Homo sapiens: one gene and its partners. The protein of the gene in region 4 interacts with the protein of the main gene of each other region in a pairwise test. Each region holds a gene or a part of one and is shown on either strand. Other genes may lie near its edges. The genes, in order: CLEC14A, ZFYVE27, KDELR3 and TSPAN2.

Region 1 (6,938 bases), on a different chromosome or scaffold from region 4:
TTTAAAATTTGTCACTTATTTCTTATACTATTATTTCTTATGGTAAACTGTTTACCATGCCTTTGCCCATGTAAACACTTGTAAGATTATAATCACTCCAAAATGAGCAAGTATTGTTATTGCACACATTCTTATCAAGAGAAAAAGAAAATGGCTTGGTGTTCAAGTTTTTCCATGGGTTGAAAAATGCACAAGAACTTAGCAACTTTGGAGGAAAACCAGCTTACTTTTTCTTTGATGCAACCAGAAGATTGCAAATCAATACTTAGCATTAACATTTTAATTGAGAATTAACATCACCATAATTGAAGATGAGGATGAGCATCTTGATGTTCAGGAGAGGGCTATTTGCTTGGGGAGGTCATTACGCTGGAAAGCACAAACACTGGAAAGGGAAAACGCAAATTATGTGTTTTCCTTGGGCATGGACATAAAGTAAACACTTGAACTGGTGGTCAACTGTAATTTTCTTCCAGAGCCAGCAATTCTGGCAACACTACACTTTCGATTTATAGCAAAGCACACAAGTAGCAGTGACTTTGAAAAGAAAGGATAAAAGAATCAATGAAAAAGTTACTAGTTCTTAAAGATCTGTGTCTCATTCGAGGAACTTAAGGACCTCTCCCTCAATCTAAAAGCAGAATGCACTCTTGCTGCTTACTCCCAGCATGCCCTCAGCTGTTCCTAATTACTCCTGGAGGAAGGCAATGATATTTGAGTCTGGGTTATCAACAATCCTTTAATTTTTTATTTTTATTTTTTTCCCTGGGATTTCGAACCAATATACTCCTAGCCTGAACAACATAGAACATTTCCTTTCCATTTTGGTAGAAATTATTTTTTAATGTAAATTATATTGTGTTCTATTTGTTTCCAATGTCTTGAAAAGTTCAATCACTTCTCCAAATTCTCCGAATAAACATAAGAAAATATCTCTCCCCAGCACTACCCGGTCCCCCAGTATCACCATCCTAAAGGCACTTCCACTTCCTCTATCATCAGGGAAGGAGTGTGCAGTTCTGATTTAGCTCCTCAGTGGAGTAAAGGGAATTTAGAGGAAGGGGGATTTCTGCAGAAATTGTCAGTTACACAAGTAAGTTCCTCTTGGTTCCCCGTTTCATCAAAAGTGAAAAACTGTTCACAGGAGTGCCCATGTCCCCTGTTTCCCTATGCATCACTAGAGCCAAGAGGGGACTCCGCCAGCAAGGCACCCTCTGCTCTGTCCCGCAGATCACAGTCCCCGACTTTCACCCCATTGTTTGTGCAATGTGCAGAACTGGAGCCCAAAGCAGCGGGCTCAGGATCACTCTCCAGGCCCGGCGGGCCCATAGACTCCTTCCTTGGCTGGGAAGAGGGGCTTTCGTGAAAGCAGAGCTTGACAAGCCCCAGTACTGTCATGGTCAAGATCACCAACACTACTACTGCTGTGCTCACAAATATGAAGACCACGGCAGAGGAGGAGTCGAAAGCCTGAGGAGTGGCAGAGGAAGTCGTAGAATTAAACTTGGAAATCACGCTCCCTGATGGGGTGATAGTGGCCTTTGACTCGGCTTGAAGGGACATTTGAAGGGTAGACATCGTGCTCTGTGATCCCCATCGAGGAATCTCAGGAATAGATGTTACTGAATTGTCTTGTTCAGGGACAAGTGGTGTCTCTCCCAGCTTCTCGTCGACCCTGATTGGCCATGTTCTCTGCGGCACGGGGCTGGTTGCAGTGGCCGGCGGGCGCCTGGTGGGCACCCCGGTCCCCCCAAGGGTCGGCTGTCCTTCCCCACTGGTCACACAAGAGCGGCCGTCCTTCCCCAGCTCGAAGCCCGTAGCACATTCGCAGGCAAAGCCTCCCAAGTCGTCTAGGCAGTTAGGGAGCTCTGCGCATTTGCCAGCACGGAGGTACCTCCCGGGGCAGGGACACAACACATCGCCCGAGAGTTTGTCCCAGCGAGCGCCGATTTCGTCCGCGATGCAAGTAACTGAGATCGGGAGCTGTCCCCGGCAGAGCGCACTCACCTCGGTCCCAGGTGGACTGAAGTCCAGAGCGGCGCTGTGCAGCTGGAAGGGCGCGCGATAGCTCAAGTTAGAGGCGGCCCCGGGGCGCGGCGCAGGACACAAGACCTCAAACTGGTACTTGCACAGGTAGCCGTTGGCGCGCAGGTGGCATCGCATCTCCTTCCAGCCTGCGGGCTCGACCCCACCGGTGGCCTGGAGTACCGCGCATCTCCGCGCGGTGCAGGAGCGTTGGGGCTCCTCCACCCACTGCAGCGTGTCGCTTTCGAGACCGCCGGGGTCGGAGGACAGCCAGGAGAAACCCCGCAAAGGCTCGTTCTCCAGGGTGCAGTGGGAACGCCTGCGCTCCAGTGCGACCCAGAACAGCAGGTCTTTGGAGCCCCCTCCGGGCCCTGGGCCTGCCCGCAGGAGCGCGAGCACAGCGCGCAGCTCGGCGCCCGCACGCACGGTGCTGAGCGCCCCACCTCGCAGGATGCAGGCCTCCTCGGCCGCCTGCCGCTTCATGGTAGCGTGGTGCAGGCTGTAGCAGGCCCCCGAGGCCGAGCAGCCAGCACGGTCGGCAGTGGGGTGTTCGCCGCCGCCCGGCCCGGGCCAGAGCGCCTGCCAGAGGAGGCACAGGGCGAACGCCGGCCTCATTCTCTGAGGCCCCGCACGCAGAGCTGCTCCCAACTTGGATCTGTCCCGCTCGAGGACGCAGAGCTGTGTCTGGAGCGCGGTCACCGCCCTCTACAGCTGGCTTCCCCAACCCGGTTCCCCCTCCCTTCCCCTCCGCCCTCGCTCCCGACGGACCCCCCAACTGCCAAGAATCCCCCCGCGGGCCCAGCGGCCAACAGTTTCCCTTAGGCCGCGACAGGAAATGTGTGCGGAGCGCTGCCAGGCCCGGTGCAGCCCTGAGTTATTCTGGGGTCAGGAACACAGCTGGCGCCGGGTACAGGGGACGCAGTCGACTAGAAGGTCAAACACCCTGCTTAGAGCAAGAGGAGAAATTCGCCACTGGGATGAAGTGTGTGGTTTTTCTCCGTTCAGGGAGTTTCATCAGGACCGCAGAACCCATAACACGTAAGCGAACATAGGCAGGAAGGACTTGAGAAAGGAACTGGCTTATGATTATAAGACCACGCCCGTCTATTGTGTTTCTGTCCGGAGCTGTGGAGTTAGCGTCAGAATAATTCGTAGACGGCTCCAGTGTTTGGGGGGCCTGTGCCTGTGGGGGAAAAATATGTTGTGAAACAACTTAGCAACTGCTTTTGCCACCAGAGGCAGCACTATTTAACCGCATATCTCTCTATGGGTCTTTGCTTCTCTATTATGTCAAGAGATTTCAGGAGTCCTAACTACTAAAGAATTTGGAGTTGTTTGGGTATTTTAAATGGGAAATTCTGCTTCTTCCATCAGCACTTGCTTTAGAAATTTATTTTTCACTTCCACGTGTTTCTCTTTGAGTTAGACCATATTGATTCATTACAGAAAGGAAATGTATTTCTAGGACTAAATGAAAAATAATGACCATAGATCTTAACAGTTAGGTTGTTAGCTTTCCTTGCCACTGTATTGGTTCAAAAATTCTTCAAGTTTATAGGTTATACATAAATGAGTTCGTGGCCTTATAAATATTCGAGAACAACTGCCCTATGTGTGATTTTAGCCTTGAACTATTTTAGTATCATTTTCTCCTATGATTGAGTGGCAGCATTTATAATAGTAAGTTGTAAACATCTCCTTTAAGGAAAATTAGAGTTCCTTAAGAAATTAAAATGTTTATTCCATTATAATGAATATTGTATACTGTCAAAAAATATCTTGTAATTTGAAAGATGGGTGAGCCAATTTCTTTAGAATTCCAGTGGGTGTTTTGTTTTAATATAAACATTTCAACTCAGTGGGAAGTGGCAAGGAATTAAAGATGAATAAAGAAGTAAAGGTTAAAAACTGTACTGTTATGAAAGGATTTCTTGTTAGCAACTTAGACAATTCAGTATCAGTTTAGAAAACGTACATTCTATCTTGGTTCATAATGGCCAAATACGTTGCCATCAGAAATACATAGAGAGTTTCAGCTAAGCCCTCTTAGAGATGTCTGATGCTTTTAAATATCTTTAATCAGAATGAAAGTTGCCATTCCATGGATAATGCATATAAGCTCACTTTGTTTTACTGCATTCAGGTTGATGAGGGGTGGGAGGGAAGGTTTCAGGATCACATCTGTATGCTTCCATCTTATTTTTACCATAACTCTCATTCTTCTTTCCTCCTGGAAATTCCATGTATCTTAACAAACAACAGTAAGCCTATGAGTCATCATCATACTTACCTTGCTTTTGCTGAGTATGGAGCTTTGCACTAGGATTTCTCTCCTGCCCTATTTCCCAATTTAAAGAACATTCCTTAGTCCTTCCTTCAGATGTCTGAGAATCACCTTAAACGTGGCTTTGCGTTTAAATTAGGTAACTTAGTGTCTTATAAGAAAGAAACATGAAAATCCAGAAATCAAATTGAATGGTTTTTAAAAAATACTTAGTCACTTGGGCCAGCTCTCTATAGACCATTGCAATCTTATGACTGTGTTTGTAAATGTGTCCATGTAGTGCAATATTTTTAATAAAATCTTTTTCAAACTTAAGTAGTCAATGGAAATTTCTTAGATAGCTTTAAAAATCGTTTGGGATGAGATGAGGTGTCTACAGTAAGAAAGAATGAATAGCTGGAAAGCTTAAGTAAATACATGATCTCACTCCCTGACATTCTGTCTAGGGGAGTGGGATTATAGCAGAGAACACATTGGCCATAACGACTATATGAGAGTACTGACCATGACCATGACCATATCATGGAATGACACAAGAGTTAGAAAAAATTAGCTCAAAGTAGGACGTAAATAGTTTTGTAATTAGTTTGAAATAGACAGTTTATCTGACCAAATTAGAAATGGAGGAAAGTTTCTATTTTTTAATAATATTTATTAAGATAATAATATAGAACCATTTTACCCCCACTGGATTCCAAATGCCTAAAAATCTTATAATACCAAATGTGAATCTATTGGCTCTTTTACATGTTACAGATTAGAGCAACCACTTTGGAAAAATTTGACACTTTTTTTCACTAAAATTGAATATTTGCAAACTCTAGCACTTCCATGATAAGGTATAAAACTAAGAGAAATTTTTGCACATGTACAACAGAAGATATGTAAAAAATGTTTATAGTGACACTATTCATATTAACAAAACGTTGAATCAATCAAAATATCCAAAAACAGTATAAAAATAAACTGTAGTATATTCACTAATTTAATATTATATAGGAGTAAAAATTAGTACAATATAGTGGCAAGTAACAATATGAATTTATTTTAGCAATACAATGTTAATGGACAGAAGTTCCAAAAACGATACAGAGTCTGACATTTTTATACAATTAAAAGAACAGTACTAGATATATGTTTGTGTATTCTTTAGAAAAATAGTTACAATAAAATGAGACAAAAGAAACAATAAACATAAGATTCTTAGTGATGCGCCTTTTGGGTGAGAGGAAAGAGAAGGATGGAATGTTAGGGGAACTAGCAGGCTTGATATGGGCTGTTGATAGAGTCCTAGCTTTTGTTTTGTGCAGTGGCTTTGTGTCACTACCCAAATAATGGAATCTTTATTCCATTATTAAAAATAAATAATTAGTAATGAACAAATAAATCAAAATGGCTATATCTGGATAAATAAGTGAATGGACATGAAGCAGGAATTAAAATTAATTTAATTCTGAGTGGTTGAGTTTCAAAATGAAAAGTAAAAATAAAATCAAAATGTTAATTATGTTTAAAATATATTTTCAGTATATTTTCTTTATTTTATTATTATACTTCAAGTTCTGGAGTACATGTGCAGAACATACAGGTTTGTTACATAGGTATACACGTGCCAGGGTGGTTTGCTGCACCCATCAACCTGTCATCTACATTAGGTATTTCTCCTAATGCTATCCCTCCCCTAGCCCCCCACCCCCTGACAGGCCCTGGTGTGTGATGTTCCCCTCCCTGTGTCCATGTGTTTTCATTGTTCAGCTCCCACTTATGAGTGAGAACATGCGGTGTTTGGTTTTCTGTTCTTGTGTTAGTTTGCTGAGAATGATGGTTTCCAACTTCATCCATGTCCCTGCAAAGGACATGAACTCATCCTTTTTTATGACTGCAAGTATTCCATGCTTTATATGTGCCACATTTTCTTTACCCAGCCTGGGCATTTTGCTCCACCTGAGTGCATTCCTCGTGGCCTGGGAGCATTTCAGATACCCTAGCGCACCTAGAACCTAAGCCCAAGGGTCCGGAGGATGGAGCCATGAGCCGGTCCTGGCTCCCCAGGACTACAGCACATAGTTCTGCGGTGCTGAACCAAGATCACTGGCCAGCACTCAAGTAGGGGAGAAGCCCACATTCTCAGAGCACTAAGAAGGGTAAGATGTGTGATTTCTTGGGCTGGCAAAGGAGCAGGACATACCTCCCTTTGCAGGGACAGTCTGAAAAAGGTATGGTCCATGTCTCTGCCATGGCCTCTGCTAGATGAATCCCTGTGGCTCAGAACACCTAACAAAAGAAATGTAGGCATGGTGTCAGTGATCAGAGGGAGCGCCCCTAAGGCCCAGGAAAAGTCCTAGTAGTGGAGTCACCTCTCTCCCAGCACACCCTGCACTGCAGAGCACTGCTGCAAATGTGAGGAAATACAAAAGAGCTGCACACCTAAGTGCCTATCTACCAACCATTACTCTTAAGTGCTATCTCCTGAATCACAGCCCAAACTACAATTCCAAAAATATTTTGCTAATATACCACCCACTGAAACCAAGGGCAAGAATTCAGCCACAAATAAAGTCCCTGTAAAGAGCCTTAGCCCTCTGAAAACATACAGAAATGACTACAGTCAACTTACATCATAGCTAAA
Region 2 (8,278 bases), on a different chromosome or scaffold from region 4:
CACAGCTCTGGAACACTGACTAGCTCACCTCTACGGATACAGACATAAATTAGGTGAACAAGAAAAATGTAGGGCCTTTGCCAGAGAACTAGTAACAAAACATCCACTATTTCCAGACTGAGGCATGGATAAATACTCAATGGCATCCTCAGAGGTTAACGTAACTCCACTCACCCTGCTTCCTACCAGTCTCTCTCATGTATTTCAGAGGACTGAGGGTCTTTATGAGAATCTGATGAAAACCAGAAGCTTTTCCCTAGAAATACACACATGTGCAGACACATAATTTTACATGCAGTTTCAGGGGATTCACTGATCCCTAAAACTCACCCATAGGCTCCAAGTTAAAAACCTCTGCTCTTTAGGACAATCAGGTTTTTGTGTGACTCCTGATGCAATGCAACACCAGGGGCACAACATTTACCTTTGCAAAAAAAAAAAAAAACACTTTTCTAACTTCAATCAAATCCAACCTTTAAATCTAACTTCTAGTCTGCACCACAAGGAAGAAACCAGACAAATCTCGGTAGTAAATTCTCCAGGAAAGTCAGTTCAGGCTCAGTCTCTTCAGCAAATCAATGTCACGAGAGAGATTGTCTTAGACTGAAAAAAGACTTAAAAGACATAATAAGTACAAACAATGCACACTCCTGGACTGAAATGTGATTTAGCCAAAAGAGATGGTACAACTGAGGAAATGGAATATGAACTGAGTATAGGATGATATCAAGGAGTTATTAATTTTGTTAGGTATGGTGTTACTTTGATCTTGAAAGAAATGTCCTTATTTAGAGATAAAAACTGACATATTTAGGGAGTAGAATGCCATATAAGTAATTTAAAATAATTTTAACATAATAAAATGAGTCAAAAGAAAAAATGAAAATTATAGAGAATGAAAATCAAAGCAGGATAGGAGGGAAAAAGTTAAGATCCATAATCTCAATAAATTAGTAAAAATGGGCTGGGCACAGTGGCTCACACCTGTAATCCCAGCACTTTGGGAGGCTGAGGCAGGAGGATCACTTGAGCCCAACAGTTCAAGACCAGCCTGGGCAACACAGTGAGAGCCTCTCTACAATTTTTTTTTTTTTTTAATTAGCCAGGCATGGTGGCTGAGGTAGGAGGATCGCTTGAGCTGAAGAGGCTGAGGCTACAGTGAGCCATGTTCACACGACTGCATTCCAGCCTGGACAATACAGCAAGATTCTGTCTCAAAAAAAAAAAAAGTAGTGAAAATGGTATCTGCTTATTCACAGGTTTTTGTATTTCTTTAATTTTTGTTCAAAATTATACCCTAATTTTTTAATATTAATTATGCTAATATTGGGGGCAAAGGAAAAAATTAAGCCTGCTCTAAGCTGTAGAAGGCGTGATGTTCAAGGTTGTCCAGCAGTCCAGAGGAAGGAGCTTATTCAGTCACAAAGAAGAACCTTGCTGAAAGGCAGGATCATTCCCAGTATCTGCCTCTCCTGGGCTGGGCCTGAGACACAGGGTAGGCCTAGATAAACCCAGAGGCCGAACAGACCTCCCAGAACTGCTCCTCACTAGGGCAGAAAGGACAGCCCAGCCACTGCCTAAATGGTCAGTGTTAGTTACTACAGAGCAGGACGGCAGAAGGCAGAGCAGACCAGAGCAACTCCACAAAGTCTGTACCTGAGCAAGTATCGAACACCATCACCTGCATCCTTCAAGGGTTCCAGGTAGATCTCCAGCCTCTTGTAGGAGAGAACCAAGTTGAAAAGGTCAAACGCTGGGGACTTGGTAGGAAAAGGTGGAGACTCCAGGGGAGCCTCGGGCATCACGCTGGGGCTCAGCTCCGGCCCACTCCCCTCACGTTCTGATGTCTGCATCCTGTAACCATAATAATTCCCAACATTTGCATTGCACGTCTAGTCCTCAACACAATTCTACCTACAGATTCAGGTGGTGCCAACAGTAAACCTGTGAGCAAGGGAAAGTGAACTATTCAGACCTAAAATCCTGTTCTTTGTACTCTCCATCCAATGCTCTTTTCCCCAAAGATCCATCAAAACTAAAAATCATAAAAACCAAGCATAAATGATCGCTGCAGCGAGGCAGCCCATGGGCTGAAATGAAATGATGTCCTGGAACATTTTTCTCCCACTCTTTACCTGGTTAATTCCTACTCATCCTTCAGGTATCAGCTTAAACATCACTCCCTTACTCTGGGAAGTCTCTGCCAACACCCCCAACTCTGGACTGGGAGACCCTCTCCGATGCTCCCAAAGGATCACGTACTCACCCTAACAGAGCACTTATCACATCACATCGCTTCTTGGCCTTGTGGCTAAGATCAAGTGCAGAGCACTGACCACGTCAAAGTAAAACTCCCTGCTCTTAACTGGCCTCCATTCACGACTGCTTCTGTACACAGTGGGTGCTTAACAAATGCCTGCTGAATGAGTGAATGAAATACCGTGCTCCAGGACTCTCGCCCGATCCTCTAACTCTTCCCACTCCCTTCGGTTCCCAACAACTTCCTGGGCCATCTCTGCCCCAGGGCAGTCGGCATCAGAACGCCCCATTCCCGTCTGCCCTTTCTGATGAGGAAACCGAGGAGCCTTTACGGTCTTTCCCAGTTCAAAGTCCTATCCTGAACTCTAAGCAGCAAACGAGGGGGCGGAACCTCGGCGAAGAGCAACATAAACCAGTCCCAGGCAATCAGCCGCGACCTGATGGGAGGGTGAGGGGATGGGACAAAGGGGCCAACGGGACCCCGAAATCCCCGCAGGCCGAGCCAAGGCGAAAGGGCACAGAGCGGCGCCAGGTATGAGCCCAGGAAGGGGCGAGGTATATCGACGCCCGCACTGGCCTTGGCCAACACCTCTGCAGCCAGGGGGGCCTGATGGAGCCCGTGAGGCTGGACAGGGAAGGCCATGCCCGAGGTCGTGGGGCCAGCATGTGGCGGCCCCCGCTGCGCCCAAGCACCCAACTACACACAGCCTGCGGAGACACTGGGACGCGGGGGGACGGCACCTCACCTACCCGGCCGCTGGCTCCGTGAGGGAGGCGGCAGGGTCGGGCAGGAGCAGGGGTAGAGCCACTGGGCCCCGGAGCGTTTCTTCAGGCCTCCCCCGGCTGAACGCCGCTCCTCCTGCCAGGGTTGTTCGGAAGTCGCAGGTCCGAAAATCTCCTCCGCCTACGCCGCGGCCGCCACCGCCGCTTCCGGGACGCGAATCGCTCTGCGGCTGCGTCCTCATGACGTCATCCCGCTCCGGGTTTAGCTCCGCCCACCCCAGCACAGGCAAGCACCCTTGCCAGCAGTGCGCCTGCGCGTCTTTCCCGCGCGCTCCAGGCTGGAGTTAATTCTGTCCTTGGCCGGCCGCCGTTCACAAAGCCTTGAGGACCCTTGGAAGCACGTGCTTGGCGACCCTGCAGCTCGTTGCCCTGCCTTGCCGCAGGGAACAGTTGGCGAGAGGCTTAAATGAAGAATTTACGTCTTCATCCTCTTTCCTTCCAACTTTGGAACTGAACTGGGGACTGTGTGTGAGCCCCGGAAAGACACCGTATCCTGTATGAGATGCCCAGCAGAGCATGCAGTTGTTTCCGGAGTAGCTAGTGTGTACAAGGTCCTGTGCAGGCCTCTCCCAGCTCAGTTCACTTCACACCGTGTGGCCCAGTTAATTTCCCTTAAAGCACACATCCGATGGCTTTATATTAGTGACTTAGCGCTCAGGTACAGAGGAGCCAAGCACTGAACCGGACTGAGCTCTTTTTAGACATTATCTAGTTCTCCTCCAACGACCCTATTAGGGTTGTCGCCATTTTACAGATGGGGAATCTCAGACGTGTTAAGGAACTTCTTTAGAGTCACAGCTAAGAAGCAAATGGGAGCTGGAATTTGAAGCTTATGTGTCATCTGACCCCAACGCCCCAACCATACCACCACCCACCTTGGTCTGCATTTCCTGGTCTTGTCTCCTGCCATCTTTCAGCTGCCTTTAACTTTGGCCAACTGAACCCCTCCACTGTTACCCTCAAATGCCCCTGGCACTCAAATGTCTGTATCCCTTCCTTGAGTGCCCCAGCTGGAAGTAATCACTTCCCTCTTCAAGTAGCCACAGAGCTTTAACTGCATCTCTTCCTCCATTATCTCCTTTCAGAAAGACAGGCCCATCCCTCCAGCCAGGACTTAGCTGTGCTCCAGGGTCCAACTCTTATTTCCTTAGGGCTTTGCTCTAACAGGCCTGAAATCTTGACTCTCGCTAACTCTTAATCATCATTCTAGAGACAAAATTCATGGAAAATTTCTCCTTTAGCCTAACTTTACCCCCTCTTTCCTACATGAGTTGGAAGACTCACTGTGAAGTGCTCTCTACCGCTGCTTCCTCGCCCAATTCACTCCTCACTGCACTGTGGTCCTGCTCCCCTCCATATTTCTGGGCTACCTGCCTGCTCACCTGTGACATCCTGGCTGCTAAATCCAATGGACACTTCCCAGTCCTCCTTGCAGATGACCTCAGAAGCACTGGAATCTCTTTCCTTTTTGGCACCATTGTCCACCTTAGCTTCCATGACACCACCCTCTCCTCTCTTTCCGACCTTCAAGGTCTCCTTAGGGCTTTTCTTCCTACCCCTCAAATGCTGGGGCTCCTTTTGCTACCCTTCTTTCTTCTGACTCAAGGCACTCCGTGAGGATCTCATTCACTCTTGTGGCTTCTGTCAGCTAATGTTTCGTTTCCCGTGTCTATGTCTCCAGCACCTAAAGCAGTACCTGGCACATAGTAGGCATTCTGTTAAGAAGGGTTGCAAGATGTTACCATTGGGGGGTAGTCTGTGGGATCACCCTGTGTTAGTTCTTATAACTATGTATAAATTGACGATTGTCCCAAAAGTAAATGCTTACCCTGTGTAGGTATTTTTCTCAAAGCTCCCTGCTTTAGTTGACTTTGTCAATTACCCGGCATGCGCCAGTCCCAACATAAGTAAGGTAGGAGGGCTTCTCCTCAGATGAATTGCTTGGTTGGTTTTTCCAGCTGTAAAATGGGGATAACCATAGTGGTACCCTCAGTGTGGGGCTGTGATGAGAATTAAATGAGCTAAAGTATGTAAATTCCTGACATGTTATAAGTGTTCAAAAATCGTTAGCAATCATTGTGATTTTTATTTTTACTCAAAGCCCTACCACCACCACCCCTAGCCCAAAAATCAGACAAGAATCCACGAAAGGCCAAAATGTAGAAAGATCCAATTCCCACACATATCACTAAGCCATATACAGAAATCCACTCACCACCCCTTAGAGAAATGGACTGAGCTTTGTGGTGGTCCAGGCCCATCTGCTGGACTCTGCCTCTCCTCCCTTAGGATGGGTCTTTTCCCCGAAAGCTCCTGGGTCTGTCATGCAGATAGCCTCTGAAGGCCCCTCTTCTTCGTTTCCTAACCTGGCCTCAGGTCTGAATTCCAGGATAGGCCATCGCCACTCCCCACCCACTCCCATCCCCCACCCTGTCCACCCCTCTGTACCTTTCTCAGACCACTCTCTTGGTGGATAGTTTCAGTGGCCCCCTGTGACCTCCAGGATAAAACCAAAGCCTGGTGTATTCAACTCTGGCAGTTCTCGGATATGTCACACCTTCTCCCATTACTGTACCTTTCTACAGACTACTCTCACCTTTTTTTTTTTTTTTTTTTTGAGATAGAGTTTTGCTCTTGTTGCGCAGGCTGGAGTGCAATGGAGAAATCTTGGCTCACTGCAACTTTTGCCTCCCAGGTTCAAGCGATTCTTCCGCCTCAGCCTCCTAAGTAGCTGGAATTACAGGCATGCACCACCATGCCTGGCTAATTTTTTGTATTTAGTAGAGATGGGGTTTCACCATGTTGGCTAGACTGGTCTCAAACTCCTTACCTCAGGTGATCCACCTGCCTCGACCTCCCAAAGCGCTGGGATTACAGACGTGAGCCACTGCGCCCCATATTCTTTAGTTGGCCAGCTCTTATTCTTCCTCCAAAATTCAGCTCAGATCTCACCCCTGAAGAAAGACTTCTCTGACACCTTCCCCATCAGCAGCCACTGTCTGGATTACGTGCCCTTCTGACTTGGCTCCGTGGGCCTGCCCCACCCCAGCACTTGGTGCCTCCTCCTCTCTCTAGACAGTGAGAGTCCTGAGGGAACTGCCTATAATTTCTGTGTCCAGCATCTAGCACAAAGGAGGTACCAACAAATGTTCCTTGAATGAGCGCATGCGTGTCAGTTTCCTCTTGGAGCACAGAATTCACATCTCTTTCAACAAAAGCCCCAGAACAATGCCCATTTCTTTTTTCTTTTTCTTATCTTTCTTTCCTTTTTTAATGTAATTTTATTTTATTTTTGAGATAGGGTCTTCTGCTGCTGCCCAGGCTGCAGTGCAATGGTGCAATCATAGCTCACTCTAATTCCTGGGCTCAAACAATCCTCCTGCCTCAGCCTCCAGAGGAGCTGGGACTACAGGTGCACACCACTAACACCTAGCTACTTAATTTTTATTTTTATTTTTTTTTGAAACGGAGTCTCACTCTGTCATCAGGCTGGAGTGCAGTGGCACGATCTTGGCTCACTGCAAGCTCCGCCTCCCGGATTCAAGCGATTCTCCTGCCTCAGCCTCCCGAGTAGCTGGGACTACAGGTGCACACCACCACGCCCAGCTAATTTTTGTATTTTTAGTAGAGACGGGGTTTCACCATGTTGGCCAGGATGGTCTCGATCTCTTGAGCTCGTGATCTGCCTGCCTCAGCCTCCCAAAGTGCTGGGATTACAGGTGTGAGCTACCGTGCCTGGCCAATTTTTTTTTTTTTTTTTTTTTTGTAGAATGAGGTGTTGCTATGTTGCCCAGGCTGGTCATGAATCATTTCTTAAAACAATGACTGTGAAACCAGCAAGAATGAACTGGACAGAAATTCTACCCTCTATGAACTCTTAGTTCAACAGAAGACGCTGACTTGACTGAGCCATGATATAAAGCAGGGGATTCTACTGTAACCGTAGGAGCAGAGAGAAGAGGCAGACTTAATCTAAGTGAGAGGATGGGGAAAGTTTTGTGTTCAACAATGTAGTATTTAAGCTAAGGAGTCCCCACCCTTCTTAAGAAAAATAAATTTTTTTCTTTAATAACCTAAGTACCGGTCAGGCACAGTGGCTCACACGTGTAATCCCAGCACTTTGAGAGGCTGAGGCGGGCAGATCACCTGAGGTCAAGAGTTTGAGACCAGCCTGGCCAACAAGGTGAAACCCCGTCTCTACTAAAAATATAAAAATCAGGCCGGGCGCGGTGGCTCACGCCTGTAATCCCAGCACTTTGGGAGGCCAAGGTGGGCAGATCATAAGGTCAAGAGATCGAGACCATTCTGGCTAACACGGTGAAACCTGGGCTCTACTAAAAATACAAAAAAATTAGCCGGGCATGGTGGTGGGCGTCTGTAGTCCCAGCTAGTGGGGAGGCTGAAACAGGAGAATGGTGTGAACCCAGGAGGCGGAGATTGCAGTGAGCCGAGATCATGCCACTGCACTCCAGCCTGGGCGACAGAGCTAGACTCCGTCTCAAAATAAATAAATAAATAAATATAAAAATTAGCCGGGTGTGGTGGCGCGTGCCTGTAATTCCAGCTACTTAGGAGGCTGAGACAGAAGAATTGCTTGAACCCAGGAGGCGGGGGTTGCAGTGAGCGGAGATCGTGCCACTGCACTCCAGCCTGGGCGACAGAGCAAGACTCTGTCTCGAAAAAATAATAATAATATATATATCCTAAGTGCCTGAAATTCTCACACTGGTAATTTACTCCAAAGGTAAATTTTAGTTTCTTTGCAATTCCTCCTCCTTGGCCTCAGTCTGACAGTGGAGAGTAATAGTATTTGTTTTCTCTTCCAGCAGCTATAGAATTGAGAGATATTATTCAAGAATTTCTAGACATTATCTGGAGGGAACATTGGAGGATACAAGAAGGCTTTAAAAACCAGAAAGGGACAATAGTCGTGGCCTGTAGCGATGAATAAAGGCCTCCCCTTATAATTAAGAGACGGACCAGCTTGACTGTGCTCTCTCGAGTCTAATTCTGATTTTTCCATAATCAAGTTCTAGTTCCTTCTTTCCCTCCTGCAGCATTCTGCCTCAACTCCTGGTGCTGCTGATGTTTTCCCCTTGGTAGCAGACAGGTAGAAGAGACTAAGGGAGAAAATTAAATAATCACTGAAGATAATATCTTACCTTGACATTTTGCAGAGGTTAGTATTTGCTTCAATAAGCAAGTGTGTTTATGGCCCACATACTTGACTCATAAA
Region 3 (7,495 bases), on a different chromosome or scaffold from region 4:
ATGTTGGTCAGGCTTGTCTCGAACTCCTCACCTCAGGTGATCCGCCCGCCTCGGCCTCCCAAAGTGCTGGGATTATAGGCATGAGCCACCGAGCCCAGCCTTAAAAGTTTGTATTTCTAACAAGTTTCCCAAGTGACGCTGATACTGCCGGAGCAGGACCACACTGGCCTAGAGCACTCCTATTTGTACTCCTATTTGGAGTTATTTCCTCGAAGCAGTCTTTTTTTCACTACAATGAGGCACACATTCTGTCGCCATAGCTCCATGTGAACATACTCATTTTAGCCCGTGATCACATGCTCTGTAAATGTCTAGGTACAAGTCCATCTCCCCTCTAAGAGAGGACTCCGTGGCAAGGTCCACCTCCTAATCCCCAGCTCCTAACTCAGTCCCTGGCACAAAACAAATGCTGGAATGAGTGAATGAGGTGGTCACTTTTTCATTTCATAAATGTAGAAACTAGCCTCTTTGAGCTTCCTAGACCTCATTCAGCTATGGCAAGGGCTGAGTCTGCTGTCTCTGCCAGGAATGCCCAAGGCTGACTTGGGCTGAGAAATGAACTAGCAGGTGATGTTTGATACATGTGTGAACTTAAGTAGACGGTGATTTCCAGTCCTCAGATTCACATTCACTAAATCTGAATGAGTTCAACACCTCACAAGTAACAGCAACCTCCACTCTACCAACTAGTAACAACATGCCTGAAATCCCAAAGGGATGTCTCTGATATGGAAGAAAAGGACAACTCACTTTAGTTAAATATTTTCTAGGTGCTGTATGTTATCTCATGTGATCTTCTCAATAGCCCTGCAAGATAGAATTCCCCCATGGAACCCTTGTTCCTTAGAAATAAGATTCCTAGGCCAGGCACGGTGGCTCTCGCCTGTAATCCCAGCACTTTGGGAGGCCGAGGAGGGTGGATCACGAGGTCAGGAGTTCGAGACCAGCCCGGCCAACATAGTGAAACCCCGTCTCTACTAAAAATACAAAAATTAGCCAGGCATGGTGGTGTGCACCTGTAATCCCAGCTACTCAGGAGGCTGAGGCAGGAGAATTCGCTTGAACCTGGGAGGCGGAGGTTGCAATGAGCCGAGATCACACCACTGCACTCCAGCCTGGGCAACAGAGGGAGACTGTCTCAAAATAAAAAAGACTGGGCATGGTGGCTAATGCCTGTAATCCCAACACTTTGGGAGGCCGAGGTGGGCAGATCACGAGGTCAGGAGACCATCCTGGCTAACATGGTGAAACCCCGTCTTTATTAAAAATACAAAAAAAAAAAAAAAAAAGTTAGCCAGGCATGGTGGCACACATCTGTAATCCCAGCTACTCGGGAGGCTGAGGCAGAATCTCTTGAACTTGGGAGGTGGAGGTTGCAATGAGCCGAGATCGCGCCACTGCACTCCACCCTGGGCGACAGAGCTAGATTCTGTCTAAACAATAAATAAATAAATAACTTGAACCCGGGAGCAGAGACTGCAGTGAGCCAAGATCGTGCCACTGCACTCCACTCTGTCTCAAAAAAAAAAAAAAAAGGGGGGGCCAGGTGTGGTGGCTCACGCCTGTAATTCCAACACTTTGGGGGGCCAAGGTGGGCAGATCACGAGGTCAGGAGTTTGAGACCAGCCTGGCCAACATAGTGAAACCCCGTCTCTATCAAAAAATACAAAAAGTAGCCGGGCGTGGTGGTGGGTGCCTGTAATCCCAGCTACTCTGGAGGCTGAGGTAGGAGAATTGCTTGAATCCAGGAGGCAGAGGTTGCAGTGAGCCGAGATTGCACCACTGCACCCCAGCCTGAGCCACAGTGCAAGACTCCATTTCAACAACAACAAAAAAGAAGACTCCTGGCCGGGCGCAATGGCTCACACCTGTAATCCCAGCACTTCGGGAGGCCGAGGCGGGCAGATAACAAGGTCAGGAGATCGAGACCATCCTGGCTAATAAGGTGAAACCCTGTCTCTACTAAAAATACAAAACTTAGCTGGGCGCAGTGGCAGGCGCCTGTAGTCCCAGCTACTCGGGAGGCTGAGGCAGGAGAATGGCGTGAACCCGGGAGGCGGAGCTTGCAGTGAGCCGAGATTGCCCCACTGCACTCCAGCCTGGGCGACAGAGCGAGACTCCGTCTCAAAAAAAAAAAAGACTCCTAGCTGATCATGGTAATTCCAGAACTTCGGGAGACTGACACAGGCAGATCACTTGAGCCCAGGGGTTTGAGACCAGCCTGGGCAACATGGTGAAATCTTGTCTCTATTAAAAATACAAAAAAATTAGCCAGGCATGGTGGTGCGTGCCTGTAGTCCCAGCTACTCAGGAGTCTGAGGTGGGAGGACCCCTTCAGCCCGGGAAGTTGAGGCAGTGAGCCATGATCGCACCACTGCACAAGAAATAAGATTCCTATTAGATAATGTGTCCAACTAAAATCTACATCTTGGCTGGGCATGGTGGCTCACACCCATAATCCCAGCACTTTGGGAGGTCGAGGTGGGTGGACCACTTGAGGTCAGGAGCGTGAGACCAGCCTGGCCAACATGGAGAAACCCTGTCTCTCCTAAAAATACAAAAATTAGCTGGACATGGTGGCACATGCCTGTAGTCCCAGCTACTTGGGAGGCTGAGGCACAAGGCAAGCTCCCGGCTTGAAACCAGGAGGTGGAGGCTGCAGTGAGCTGAGATTGCGCTGCTGCACTCCAGCCTGGGCAACAGAAAACAGTGAGACTCCGTCTTAAAAAAACAGAAAGAAGGTGTGTCCTTTGATCTTTACATGGCTGGTTCCTTGTTGTCACTAAGCTGTCAGCTTACATGTCATCTCTTTGAAGATGCCCTGACCACACTCCCTGAAGTAGCTCTCTAATCCTTCTCTATCACCTAAATAATTTTTTTTTTCTTGAGACGGGATCTCACTCTGTTGCCCAGACTGGAGTACAGTGGCATGATCATGGCTCACTGCAGCCTTGATCTACCAAGATCAGGTGATTGTCCCACCTCAGCCTCCTGAGTAGCTGGGACCACAGATGAGCACCACTACGCCCAGCTAAATTTCTTAAATTTTATGTAGAGGCGGAGTCTCACTGCATTGCCCAGGCTGGTCTCAGACTCCTGAGCTCAAGCGGTCCTCTCGCCTTGGCCTCCCAAAGTGCTGGGATTACAGGTGTGACCCTTTATTGAATGTTTAATATATGGCAGGGTTTTTTACATTTACATTTATTATCTCATTTAATGTTCCCAACCAAACCCTCTGAGCTAAGTAATGGTACTGTCTTTTTTTTTTTTTTTTTTTTTTTTTTGAGACAGAGTCTCACTCTGTCACCCAGGGTGGAGTGCAGTGGCGCGATCTCGGCTCACTGCAACCTCCGCCTCCCAAGTTCAAGCAACTCTCCTGCCTCAGCCTCCTGAGTAGCTGGGACTGCAGGCATGAGCCACCACGCCCGGCTAATTTTTTGTATTTTTAGTAGAGACAGGGTTTCACCTTGTTAGCCAGGATGGTCTCCATCCGCCCGACTCGGCCTCCCAAATTGCTGGGATTACAGGCATGAGCCACAGTGCCCAGCCCTGTCCTCATTTTTGCACGAGGACACTGACATACAAAGAGGCCCAAGATGAGGTCTTGCAGCCACTAAGCAGCAAAGTCAGGATTCAAACCCAGGTCGGCCTGGCTCCACAGAATGAGTTTCCAAGCAGGCTACCTCACAGTTTGTGGGGGCTTGGTGGCTTCCCCCAACCATCATCACCCAGCCCCTCACCTTCATTACTGTGTTGTAGATGGAGATGAAGTTGGTGAACAGGTCCAGGTACCTGGTGGTGAAGACGAGAGCAAACAGGATCTGGCTCTTCCCAGAGATGCCTGTGGCCAAGGGTAGACAGGAGACAATGAGGACACAGACTCCCAAGCCTGCCCACCCTCAAGAGGTGCACAGCCTGGAGCTGGGGAGGCCTCTAGAGTGTCCACTCCCACTCAAAGACCTCCTGTCCAGGGCACTGTCGCTCCCTAAGGGCCAGGAAACTCACCCTTCCCATCGGATCACTTGAGTCGTCGTTCCTCTCATTAAACTGTAATCTGTCTCCCAGTCTCCAAATAAAGACACGAACACCGAGTTCCCAGTCCCCCTGCGTGTGCCTGCCTGGGCTCTTGCTCTGGGGAGGATGTCGGGGGTGGTGTGAGTCGGGCTTGGTGGGGGTTGTTGAGGCTTCTCTTCACTCCACCCCCAGAGTTCCACTGACAGTCCCCAAAGCTCAGTCTTAGGAGGAACAACTCACTGACTTTACAAGGTGTTGATTCACCAGGGAGACCAGAGCAGGCAGAGGAAGGTTCAGGGCCAGGGGAGCATTCTATTTTATTTTTCAAACTGTAAGATTTAAAAAGCCTTTTTTCTTTTTTCTTTTTTCTTTTTTTGAGATGGAGTCTCACTCTGTTGCCCAGGCTGGAGTGCAGTGGCGTGATCTCGGCTCACCACAACCTCTGCCTCCTGGGTTCAAGTGATTCTCCTGCCTCAGCCTCCGAAGTAGCTGGGATTACAGGTGCCTGCCACCACGCCTGGCTAATTTTTGAATTTTTAGTAGAGACGGAGTTTCGCCAGGTTGGTCATGGCTGGTCTCAAACTTCTGACTTCAAGTGATCTGCCCGCCTTGGCCTCCCAAAGTGCTGGGATTACAGGCATGACCCACCACGCCCAGCCAAAAAGCCTTTTTTCTAGTTACAAAAGTTATGCCTATATTTACTCTTTGCAAAACAAAAATCAAACAATATACAAAGATGCAAAGATAAAAATATTCCAAACCCCTAGTGTTCATCCTTCCATATCTTTGTGAACATGTACACACATGACACCTATGTGTACACATATGATGCACATGGATGCACTGAGTTGACAAAAAAGGGTTCATACTCTCCATGATGTTTCTTTCTTTTTTATTTTTTTCTTTTTAGAGAAAGGGTCTTACTCTGTCTCCCAGGCTGGGGTGCAGTGGTGCAATCATAGCTCACTGCAGCCTCTATCTCCTGGACTCAAACAATTCTCCTATCTCAGCCTCCCGAGTAGCTGGTAACTACAGACACAAACCATCAGACTGGCAAATTTTATTATTAATTATTATTATTATTATTTTTGTAGAGACAGAGTTTCACTATGTCGCCCAGCCTGGTCTCAAACTCCTGGGCCCAAGTGATCCTCCTACCTCATTCTCTCAGTGTTGGGATTATAGGCGTGAGCCACCGCGCCCAGTCTAAATGCTGTTTCTTGACCCACTTTGGTCTCTTTCTTTTTTTAACTTTTTATTTTGAAAGAATGTTAGATTTACAACAGAGTTGTAAAGACAGTACAGAGAATCCCACATATCCAGCTATATCTAGTGTTAACATCGTATTTGGGCCGGGGGCGGTGGCTCATGCCTGTAATCCAACACTTTGGGAGGCCGAGGCGGGCAGATCACCTGAGGTTGGGAGTTTGAGACCAAGCCTGACCAACTTGGAGAAACCCCATCTCCACTAAAAAATACAAAATTAGCCAGGTGTGGTGGCTCATGCCTGTAACCCCAGCTACTTGGGAGGCTGAGGCAGGAGAATCGCTTGAACCCAGGAGGTGGAGGTTGCAGTGAGCCGAGATCGTGCCATTGCACTCCAGCCTGGGCAACAAGAGCAAAACTCTGTCTTAAAAAACAAAACAAAACAAAACAAAAAAACATCGTATTTAGTGACAGTACTTTATCAAAACAAAGAAATCAACATCAGTAGAGCACTGTTGACTGAACTCCAGGCTTTATTCTGATTTCACCAGTTTTCCCACTGCTGCCCTTTTTCCATTCCTGGATTCCATCCCGGAATCCATGCTGCATTTTGTTGTCATGCTCCTTAGTGTCCTTTGGCCACTTTTTATTTATTTATTTATTTTTTGAGACAGAGTCTCACTCTGTCACCCAGGCTGGAGTGCAGTGGTGCGATCTCGACTCACTGCAACGTCTGCCTCCCGGGTTCAAGTCATTCTCCTGCCTCAGCCTCCCGGGTGGCTGGGATTACAGGCGCCCACCATCATGCCCGGCTAATTTTTGTGTTTTTAGTAGAGATGGGTTTTCACCGTGTTGGCCAGGCTGGTCTCGAACTCCTGACCTCAAGTGACTGCCCACTTCGGCCTCCCAAAGTGCTGGGATTACAGGCGTAAGCCACTGTGCCCGGACAGCAGTCTTGGTTATCAGATGGAAGAAACAGTATATATATAGGGTTTGGTTTAACCCGTGGTTTCAGGCATCCACTGGCAGTCTTGGAACATATCCTCCGTGGATAAGGGGGAACTACTGTGCTGTCTAATTCAGGGTCTGGTTCCCCTGTACCCCTGAACTGTGCCTTCTCTAACCATCCCTCTGGTTCCAGACATTTGGGGTGGGAGAACATTTTTTTTTCTTTTTTTGTGAGGCAGGGTCTCACTCTGTCACCCAGGCTGGAGTGCAGTGACACAATCACAGATCACTGCAGCCTCAACCTCCCAGGCTCGGATGACCCCCCTACCTTAGCCTCCTGAGTAGCTGGGACTACAGGCACATGCTACCATGCCCAGCTAATTTTTATATTTTTTCTAGAGACAAGATTTTGCCATGTTGCCCAAGCTGGTCTCAAATTCCTGGGCTCAGGTGATCCTCCTGCCTCAGCTTCCCAAAGTGCTGGGATTACATGGGTAAGCCACTGCACCCAGCCTGGGGGAACATTTTTAATGAGCAAGAAGGAACACCCCTGAAGTCCCTAACATTCTGGAGAATGTGCTGGCTTTAGGGCGAGCCTCGGTCTCACATTCCTCACCTGCCAAACGGCCCCTCATGCAGAGTGGCAGGACTGAGCTGAGGAATACACAGTGCTCAGTGAGAACCTGAGTCCCTCTGGGGGGTCTAGCACGCGCGCACGTGCACTAGCCGGGGTGAGGGCAACAGTGGGGCTGGCAGTGGGTAATGAACCCCACTGGGGGAGGCCATACTGACCTGAGGCCAGCTCTGGGATGGCCTGATGTTCATCTCACTGAGCCCTCACACAGACTTTGACAGAGAAGCCCTCAGCCCCACGAAGGACTGCCTGGGAGGCAGCCCTGGTGGGGGACGCTTGGTCACCCGCTTGGGCCTTCCCCTACCCCTCTTTTCTCTTCATCCTCAGCCTGCCAGTCCCCTGGGTTTTACTCACATTTTCCTTAGCACTTTGGGAACCCTTGTGATCTTCAGTTTTGTTTTGCTTGTTTGTTTGTTTGAGACAGAGTTCTGCTCTTGTTGCCCAGGCTGGAGTGCAATGGTGCAATCTCAGCTCACTGCAACCTCCGCCTCCCAGGTTCAAGCGATTCTCCTGCCTCAGCCTCATGAGTAGCTGGGATTACAGGCACCTGCCACCATACTCAGATAATTTTTTTGTATTTTTAGTGGAGACGGGGTTTCGCCACGTGCCAGGCTGGTCTTGAACTCCTGACCTCATGTGATCTACCCGCCTTGGCATCCCAAAGTGCTGGGATTACAGGTGTGAGCCACTGTG
Region 4 (8,433 bases):
CCTAGGCTCATAGGAAGTTGAGGTCACATACTTTATATATTCCCTCTTAATCCTCTCAATATTTCTGTTACTCCAATAGCACAGATGAGAAAACAAGCCTAGAAGTAACAATAACTTGCTCAAGTACACCCTGTTTGTGCAGGCACGCCCTGCTTGGGATCTCTGCACTCCAGCCTGATGGCTTCGACAGTCAGATGGTGGCGCACACTCCCCCTTGCTCTGCTCCTCTGCTGGTGGATGGTGCGTCACCCCCTCGCTTTGCCCAGCTCCATTCTACCAGTCCTTCCAGGTTTAGCTCGAATAGCTCCTTCTTAAGGAGAACTTTTCTGGCTCCTCATCATGACTGTGATCCTTTCTCTAAACTCCTTACTTAGATCACATATAGAGAAGGTCGGATCTAACCTCACTGGTTAACACATTCAAGCACTTAAAACTGCACTGCTCCTACTTCCTTTCCTTACTGTGCTTACGGTCAACAGTGTGAAACTTGTCACTTGATTCCACACTGTCTTATTTTTGTGTTGTTCCATATCCACTGGTCTCGTTTCCTCAATGAGATGAGCAGCTTAGGGAACTGTGTTTATATTTATAAATTATTATTTGTTTAATCATTGTTTAACAGAATGGGTCTCAAATTTGAGCATGGATCAGAATTATGTGAATGGCTTGTTAAATTAGATTGCTGGATCCTACCCCCAGAGTTTCTGATTCAGCAAGTCTGGGATGAGCTGAGAATTTTGTTTGTTTGTTTGTTTGTTTTTGAGATGGAGTTTCGCTCTTGTTGCCCAGGCTGGAGTGCAATGTGGCACCATCTCAGCTCACTGCAACCTCTGCCTCCCGGGTTCAAGAGATTCTTCTGCTTCAGCCTCCCAAGTAGCTGGGATTACAGGCACCCACCACCATGCCCGGCTAATTTTTGTACTTTAGTAGAGATGAGGTTTCATCATGTTGGCCAGGCTGGTCTCGAACTCCTGACCTCAGGTGATCCGCCTGCCTTGGCCTCCTAAAGTGCTGGGATTACAGGCATGAGCCACTGTGCCCGGCCTGAGAATTTGTATTTCTGACAAATTCCCAGGATATGCTGATGCTGCTGGCCCAGGAACCACTTTTGAGAACCACTGGTTAATTGAATGTACCACAGTGCTTAAGAGAAGGTAGGCGGCCAGGCGCGGTGGCTCACGCCTGTAATCTCAGCACTTTGGGAGGCTGAGGCAGGCAGATCATGAGGTCAGAAGATGGAGACCATCCTGGCTAACACGGTAAAATCCCGTCTGTACTAAAAATACAAAAAAACTAGCCAGACGTGGCGGAGGGTGCTTGTAGTCCCAGCTATTTGGGCGGCTGAGGCAGGAGAATGGCGTGCATCTGGGAGGTGGAGCTTGCAGTGAGTGGAGATCGGGCCACTGCACTCCAGCCTGGGCTACAGAGTGAGACTCCGTCTCAAAAAAAAAAAAAAAAAAAGAGAAGGTAGGCTGAGTTTGAATACCATCCCTGCCACTCACTAGCTGTGTGATCTTAGGTGACTTAACCAATTTGAGCCTGTTTCCTCATCTGTAAAAAATGGGGATAATAATAGTATATGTATATCAGGACTCTTGTGAGGATTATGTGTAATAATGAAAGTAATATGCTTAGCACTGTCCCTGACACATTGAAAACATTCAATGAATCCTTCCAGCTATCACTGGAAAGGCTGGTACAATATCAGCCACTAAATAAGCACTGAACCCAGCTTAAGAATTCCTCCTCAGGCTTAAAACTTCATAAGGCTTTGAATTCATAAGCAGTGAGAATGAAGGTTGTCACTGTGGCGTGACATCTATAATTAACAGCTTCTGAAATTAAGCCAGATTCCTAAAAAATACAACATAAAGGGTCTTCAGAAACGCCTCTCCCTATAGTATGCTTGATGTAAATCCCCACGTGTACAAAGGCCATGTGTCTCTTTAAAGTTCAGGGGATGTCGAGGAGGTACCTCCTTCACACCTTCCACTGCTGAAGGATACTGAAGAGCTTGGAGTTGCTGAAGTCACCCAGGCATCTGGGCTAATGGATTGACAGACAAAAGAGGAGCCCATCATTCAATAATTAATTAGTTGCAATCATGGGAAGACAACGTCCCCCAGAGCAGATAGGACAGCCACCTCCTCCAACCTGGTAGTTTCAAAGCACCCAGGCCCTGGCTGCTCTCAAACCTCTTTATCCAATGTTTCCCCTCAGGGTCTAGCTGAGCAGTTACACTGGCTGACATTCTCTTAAGAAAGCCCAAGAGGAAATGTGCAGAAAAGACAATTTTCAGACCTTGTCTCACAGTCCTGCAGGCCCTGGGACAGGGTATCCAGGGATGTAGGTCTGGTCTAGCTGTATCCCTGTCTCGATAATATAGGAGACAAGGGTCAAGATCCTATCTCTCTGTGAACCATGAATCCTGGGAACGCTGTCAGTTCAATCAAACCCTGCAAAGTTGAATGAGATCATCTCTGGGAGAATTAGTATTTAGCAGAGGCTGCGGCTGGGGGTTGTGGAGAGCTGCTGCTGCCCTTTAGAAGCCCTTCCATTCCCCATCCCCTTCTCAGAAGAGAACCCACCACCTCCTCTCACCCAGGGGTACTCTTACCCTGATGCCCAGAAAAAGGACGACGCCCCCCCACCACAATTTTCACTCCTATCTCCAATTTCCTAAACAAAACCATCACAGCCAGGTACAGTGTCCACACACTCGAATGGAGCACCACCCCAGGCAGCCCCAGGGCAGGGGTTTCTCTCCCATCACCCTGGCCAGGCCCTGGTTCCAGCTGGTAGGCAGAGTGAAAAGGGGGTGTGTGCACGGGAGACTGGAGGGGAACAGGGACCCAAGTCCTCCGGAGGTGAGGAGAGGCTGGGTCCCCGCACCTGGGGTCACTAGCTGGGAGATAAAAACCAAGGCAGGTGGGGGTTCCTTCCAGGAAAGAGCCACACGGTGTCTCTCCCCTTCTCACCATTTCTCATTGATCAACCTTCTGTCTTCCCGTTCTCTCCCTTCCATCCCTCCCCTCCCTCTTTGTTTGCCTTCTCCTCGCCTCCGCGTTTGAGCACCCAGCCCTCCCCACGAGCGCGACTCGGACGCCGCAGTCAGCAGCTCGGGGACCCCGGCCCCGCGCCCGCCACCCGGCCCCCTGCCCTGACCGGCCCTCCCGGCTCCTGGTCTCACCCAGAAGAGCAGGTTGAAGCCAAGCAGCAGGTACTTGATGCACCGCAGGCCCCCGCGGAAGCGCCCCATGCTGCGGCCCGGCGGCGGGATCCCCAGTCCCCAGGCCCGCGCTACGAGCGCGGGGAGCGGCAGGCTCCGGCGGGGAGGGGGCGGAGCGGGGAGGACCGGGGCGGGGCCTCCGGGGGGCGGGGCGGGGCCCGGCGGGGAGGGGCGCGTGGACCCCAAGCGGCGTGGCTGGCGACGGGTGGGGGCGCCAGCGGGTGGAGATCGAGCAGCCCGAGGGAGCACGTTCGCTCTTCTCCCGGACCCAGGGACCACCTTCCTTCCCTCCAGTGGGCGCACCGCCGCCGGCTATCGGAGCACCTGCAGGGCGGGAGCGCCCACCGGGGACTGGGGACCCATTTAATCAGCGCCCTGTGCGGAGACCGGTTTGAGGCCCGGGCGATGCTTGAGGGATAAGCACTTGGTCTCGTGGCTATGGAAATCTAGGAAGGTGACCTCGGGTAGAAGAGCTAAGTGGGGTCGGAGGTTGCCCCGAAGCTGGCAGGACCAGTCGCGGGGCACCTGACTGAGTGTCCAGGGCTGCGGCTCCGCGGCGCGGAGCAAGCACACAAGCAGCTTCTAGGGGACCCTCCCTCCGGCCCCTCCCCCCTCCTCGGGGGACTCTTACCTTAATAGGCAAGAACTGAGAGAGGGTGCGGGAGGCGGCGCCCTGAGTCCTGTGGGCTGCCCTCAACCCAGCCGGCCAGTGGAGGGAGTCTGACTTCTCATGTCCTGCCGGGTTCCACTGATCGGAGGGCTTGGAAGGATCCCAAATTTTCGGGATCTTAATTATGATGTGGAGATGGGAGAAAGGGGAAGGGGGCGGTTTTTGTTTTGCTTTGTTTTTATTAAGTTAGGCTGTTGGCAGGAAAATCAGACTCCCACTTCCATTGACTAAGTGTCTACAATATGTGGTGTCAGACAGTATGGGGGAGACAAGAAAGCAAAATTCGGAGAGCTTATGCATAAATTCAGCAAAACTTTGAGTGCCTATTATAGGCCAGACATAGTAGCAAGCCCCAGGGACTCAACAATGAGGAGACAGCCAGGCCCAGAACCACAGTCTCTGGTGTTGGAGACAGATCTGTAAGCAAATAGGGTGAGGAGAGAAGGGCTGGGTGCTAGACAGGTGTGCCTGGCCTGACTGCCTTAACCAGAAAAGGCATTGCTAAGGAGAGGGGCCTGATCTGGTCTAGAAGACGGAGCCCAGGCGGAAAAGATCAGTCCAGGAAGACAGCATGCGCAAAAGCACAGAGCTGGAGAGAACAAGGCCTCCAAGGGAGTTCTGAGAACCGCAGTTAGCCCGAGTGAAGCCTGGTGGGGGCAGAGTGAGTCAGGAAGGCAGGAGCCAAATCACAGCTTTCAGTCGGCTGACCAATGTGCCAAACTGTCATTGGCCCCGAGTGTCCCCACGTGCAACATGGAGGTAATAGTACTCCCCTCATAGAGTTGTGAAGATAAATGAGTTAGTATTTGTGAAGTGCCTAGAACAGTGCCTGGCACAGATTAAGTACTGCATAAGGGTTAGTATTATTGTATCACACTCTTATCAGTCAACCATTCAGTTTCTACCATGTTGCCATCTTTGCCTACCTCTGTGTCTTTGGACATTTGTTTGAATATCGACTCATTTATAAAAACGAGTCAAAGACAGAAAAATGAAAGTGCTGATTCTAGTAATAAACATGTCTCCAACAATGAAATAAAGACAAAGATGGAAGTCATTAGGTATGCAGAGAGAAGTGAATCATTAGCTTCAATCAAACACTTATAGTTCTATATCTGTCACCTCTGTTTTAGTATAAAGGAAAAGAACTAAGTTAAAGAGTAGTGTCTGGTACATAGAAGGCGTTCAGTAAATCAACTGAATGAACAATGATATTATACTTTAAATATATCGTTGAATTTTACATCTCTAAGACAAAATATGTCTAGAGATTATATAGAGGGAAGAGAACCCCTATTGTAACATATACATCTATTGTTTGTTTTTTTCATGCTACGATTTTAGCACACATGTATTAGAGACAGATGGTGGTTGCCTGTCCAACATAACAGTTTCAGATCTTTAGTATAGACTTGCCCAGTCGCCCTTTCACAAAGTTGTATGTCTTAAGGGAAGCTGACCCTTGAGAGGAATAGGCGAAGGTAATCCCATTTCCCTTGTAGTTAGTTCAGGAAACAAATTGACAAGCATCCTGACTAATGGGATGGGAGTGGTGTCTACTGAGGGGCCAGATGGTCTTCTTCCTCTTGAAGCTGTTGGATCTGGATGGTATACATAGAGTTGCTATATCCATCTTCATACCAGCCTGAGGAGAGATCCAACATTGAAAACAGCAAAGCAGGAAGTTGAAAAAACCAGAGTCATAGGTGATATTACGCCATAACTGAGTTAGCCATTTCTGAAGCCAATTGAGGTTTAGGTTTTTGTGTACATGTATGTGTATGTGTGTGGACGCATGTGTGTTAGTCCATTCTTGTGTTGCTACAAAGTAGTACCTGAGACTGGGTAATCTCTAAAGAAAAGAGATTTAATTGGCTCACAGTTATGCAGGCTGTACAGGAAGCATAGTGCTGACATCTGCTTCTGGTGAGGCCTCAGGAAGCTTTCAGTTGTGGTGGAAGGTCACAGGGAGCCAGTGTGTACACAGCGAGAGTGGGAGCAAAAGAAGTGGGGAGTTCCACACTCTTTTAAACAACCAGATATCACATGTGAACTCAGAGCAAGAACTCACTCATTATAGGGAGGATGGCATCCAGCCATTCATGAAGGATCCACTCCGATCCAATACCTCACACAAGGTCCCACTTCCAACATGAGGAATTGCCATCATCAACATATATGTATGTATTGTGCCTGAAAGGCATTCCATACATTTTCAAGGGTATATTACTATAAGAAAGTACAGGGCTACATTAAATGACATAATAAGGAAGTTAGCCTTTAAACTGTCACTGGCATTGCTCCCTTTTCTCTTTTTCCTGTCTTGAACTCAGACATGATGCTTGAAGTGCTAGAACATTTTGTGACTATGAAGAAAGGGCAAGACAATTGCAGACCTTCCAGCTAGGACATTGTGGAACTGCTGAACCAATACCAGCAGCTACCTAACTCCACATTTCTTATTATATAGGAAAAATAACCCTCTTTTTGTTTGACTTTGTGTTGTTACATGTAGCTAAAGATATTCCTGACTGGTAGAGGGAAGACAATACATTCATTTTTGGATCTGCTGAGTTTTAGATATGGTGGGAAATCCAGATGATGTGGAAATATGATTGGATTCTGGAGAAAGGTTTGGATGGTAAGTTTAGGGTAAAGATTCTTCAGCAAATGGTGATAAATAGAAGCCAGTGGTCTTAAAACTGTTGCCCACACATGCCCTAAAATAGTTACAAAAATATTTTCTCTTGCATTTTTTCCCAATATTTTATTATGAATATTTTCAAACGTACAAAAAATTTGAAATAGTTGGGCAAGGAGCACCATATACTCACCATCTAGATGCTACAATAAACATTTTGCTTTGGTTGCATTACTTATCTATACATCTGTCCATTTCTCAATCTATTTTTTTTTATTTATTTCCAAATAAATTGTAGGCAGTATGTTTCACTCCTAAACTCTTGAGCATGCATAACATTACCTAGAGTTCAAATATCTATTTACTATTTTTCTAAAATTTACCCCAATGAAATGTACACATTTTAAGTATATTATTTAATAATTCTTGACAATGCTTTTGCCTTTCTAACCCCGAATCCTATTAAGATATAGAATATTACTGTCACCCCAGGAAGCTTTCAGGCTTTCATATAACCCTTCCCAGTCAATCTATGCCCACATCCCTCCTAAAGGCAAACACTGTTCTGATTTTCTTTCACTATAGATTACACTTGCCTGTTTTAAACCTTCATATAAATGGCATTGTATAGTATTACCCTCACACATTTTTAAGTTGCAGGTAAAATTATTTATTATAAGTTTGAATATTTTCAGAGATGTCATTTCTGGTGTGTCTTAAATATTGACTTTTAAAATCAAATGGCCACATTACTCATTTTAATACATCCAGTAGAAACTGAATGCCAGTATGATCTGCTACCTATTATCATCGATTAAAAAATACATAAACAAGGCCAGGAATGATGGCTCACGCCTGTAATCTCAGCACTTTGAGAGGCCAAGGCAGGAGGATCACTTGAGTCCAGGAGTTTGAGACCACCTGAGCAACATAGTGAGGCTCTATCTCTACAAAACAAATGAAAAAAATTAGCAGGGTGTGGTGGTGCTCGCTGTAGTCCCAGCTACTCCAGAGGCTGAAGTGGGAGGGTCACTTGAGCGTGGGAGGTCTAGGCTGTTGTGAGCTGAGATTGCACCATTGCACTCCATCCTAGGTGGCAGAATGAGACCATGTCTCAAAAATAAATAAATAAATAAATAATTAAAAATACATGAGCAAGCTCCTCTTTAATAGGGTGAAAATTTTAATCTTTCCTTTTGCTCCTTGAACTTGTATTTCCGTTTTACAAAATGTCATCCTAAATTAATGCATGTTTATGCTTGAATGATTTTTCTTGAATGTCCTTTTATACTTGTCTGAACAAAATTTACTATGTTTATTAAAAGAAATTAAACTTTTCCCCTGAGACCATAAGGCTGTAAATGTTAACTAAGTTCTTCTAGATCGGAGGTGTCCAATCTTTTGGCTTACTTGGGCCACATTAGAAGAATAATTGTCTTGGGACACACATAAAATACACTAGCATTAATGATAGCTGATGAGATAAAAAATCACAAAATACTCATAATGTTTTAAGAAAGTTTATGCATTTTTGTTGGGCAGCATTCAAAACCATCCGCCACGGGTTGGACAAACTTCTTCTAGATTAAGTTACTGTTAAAATTATTTTTGGTATCCAAGTGGTTAAAATTGTATACTAAATTTAAAATATAGTTTTAAATAAACAGTCACTAAACTTAAAGGTAAAATATTGCTGGAAATGCATCTCTTAATGATATTGATGGGGTTGGTATTTTTTTTTCTACTAGTTCATATATCCATGAACGAATATTATTGCTAGAACCACAAAGCTGACCATAAATTCCCTTAATATTTTTCATTGTTTTGATATTAATGTTGAAAAACTCTGTTTAGACAAATAAGTAGATAAAGATGGAAGATGTTTTTATAGCA

What was found.
Region 1: the proteins of TSPAN2 (region 4) and CLEC14A interact in binary tests that used the Homo sapiens proteins (3 or more experiments, as listed by UniProt).
Region 2: the proteins of TSPAN2 (region 4) and ZFYVE27 interact in binary tests that used the Homo sapiens proteins (3 or more experiments, as listed by UniProt).
Region 3: the proteins of TSPAN2 (region 4) and KDELR3 interact in binary tests that used the Homo sapiens proteins (3 or more experiments, as listed by UniProt).

The regions. Positions count from the first base shown.
Region 1 is NC_000014.9:38,253,383-38,260,320, forward strand, and holds CLEC14A (C-type lectin domain family 14 member A precursor), read right to left. Parts: upstream 2,712-6,938; 5' UTR 2,641-2,711; coding exon 1,168-2,640; 3' UTR 618-1,167; downstream 1-617.
Region 2 is NC_000010.11:97,732,053-97,740,330, reverse strand, and holds the start of ZFYVE27 (protrudin), read right to left. Parts: upstream 3,204-8,278; 5' UTR 3,010-3,203; exon of another isoform or gene 3,006-3,009; intron 1,855-3,005; 5' UTR 1,854-1,854; coding exon 1,657-1,853; intron 1-1,656. UniProt on the Homo sapiens protein: Key regulator of RAB11-dependent vesicular trafficking during neurite extension through polarized membrane transport. Promotes axonal elongation and contributes to the establishment of neuronal cell polarity.
Region 3 is NC_000022.11:38,470,869-38,478,363, reverse strand, and holds part of KDELR3 (ER lumen protein-retaining receptor 3), read right to left. Parts: intron 3,842-7,495; coding exon 3,741-3,841; intron 1-3,740.
Region 4 is NC_000001.11:115,086,174-115,094,606, forward strand, and holds the start of TSPAN2 (tetraspanin-2), read right to left. Parts: upstream 3,331-8,433; 5' UTR 3,260-3,330; coding exon 3,191-3,259; intron 1-3,190. UniProt on the Homo sapiens protein: May play a role in signalling in oligodendrocytes in the early stages of their terminal differentiation into myelin-forming glia and may also function in stabilizing the mature sheath.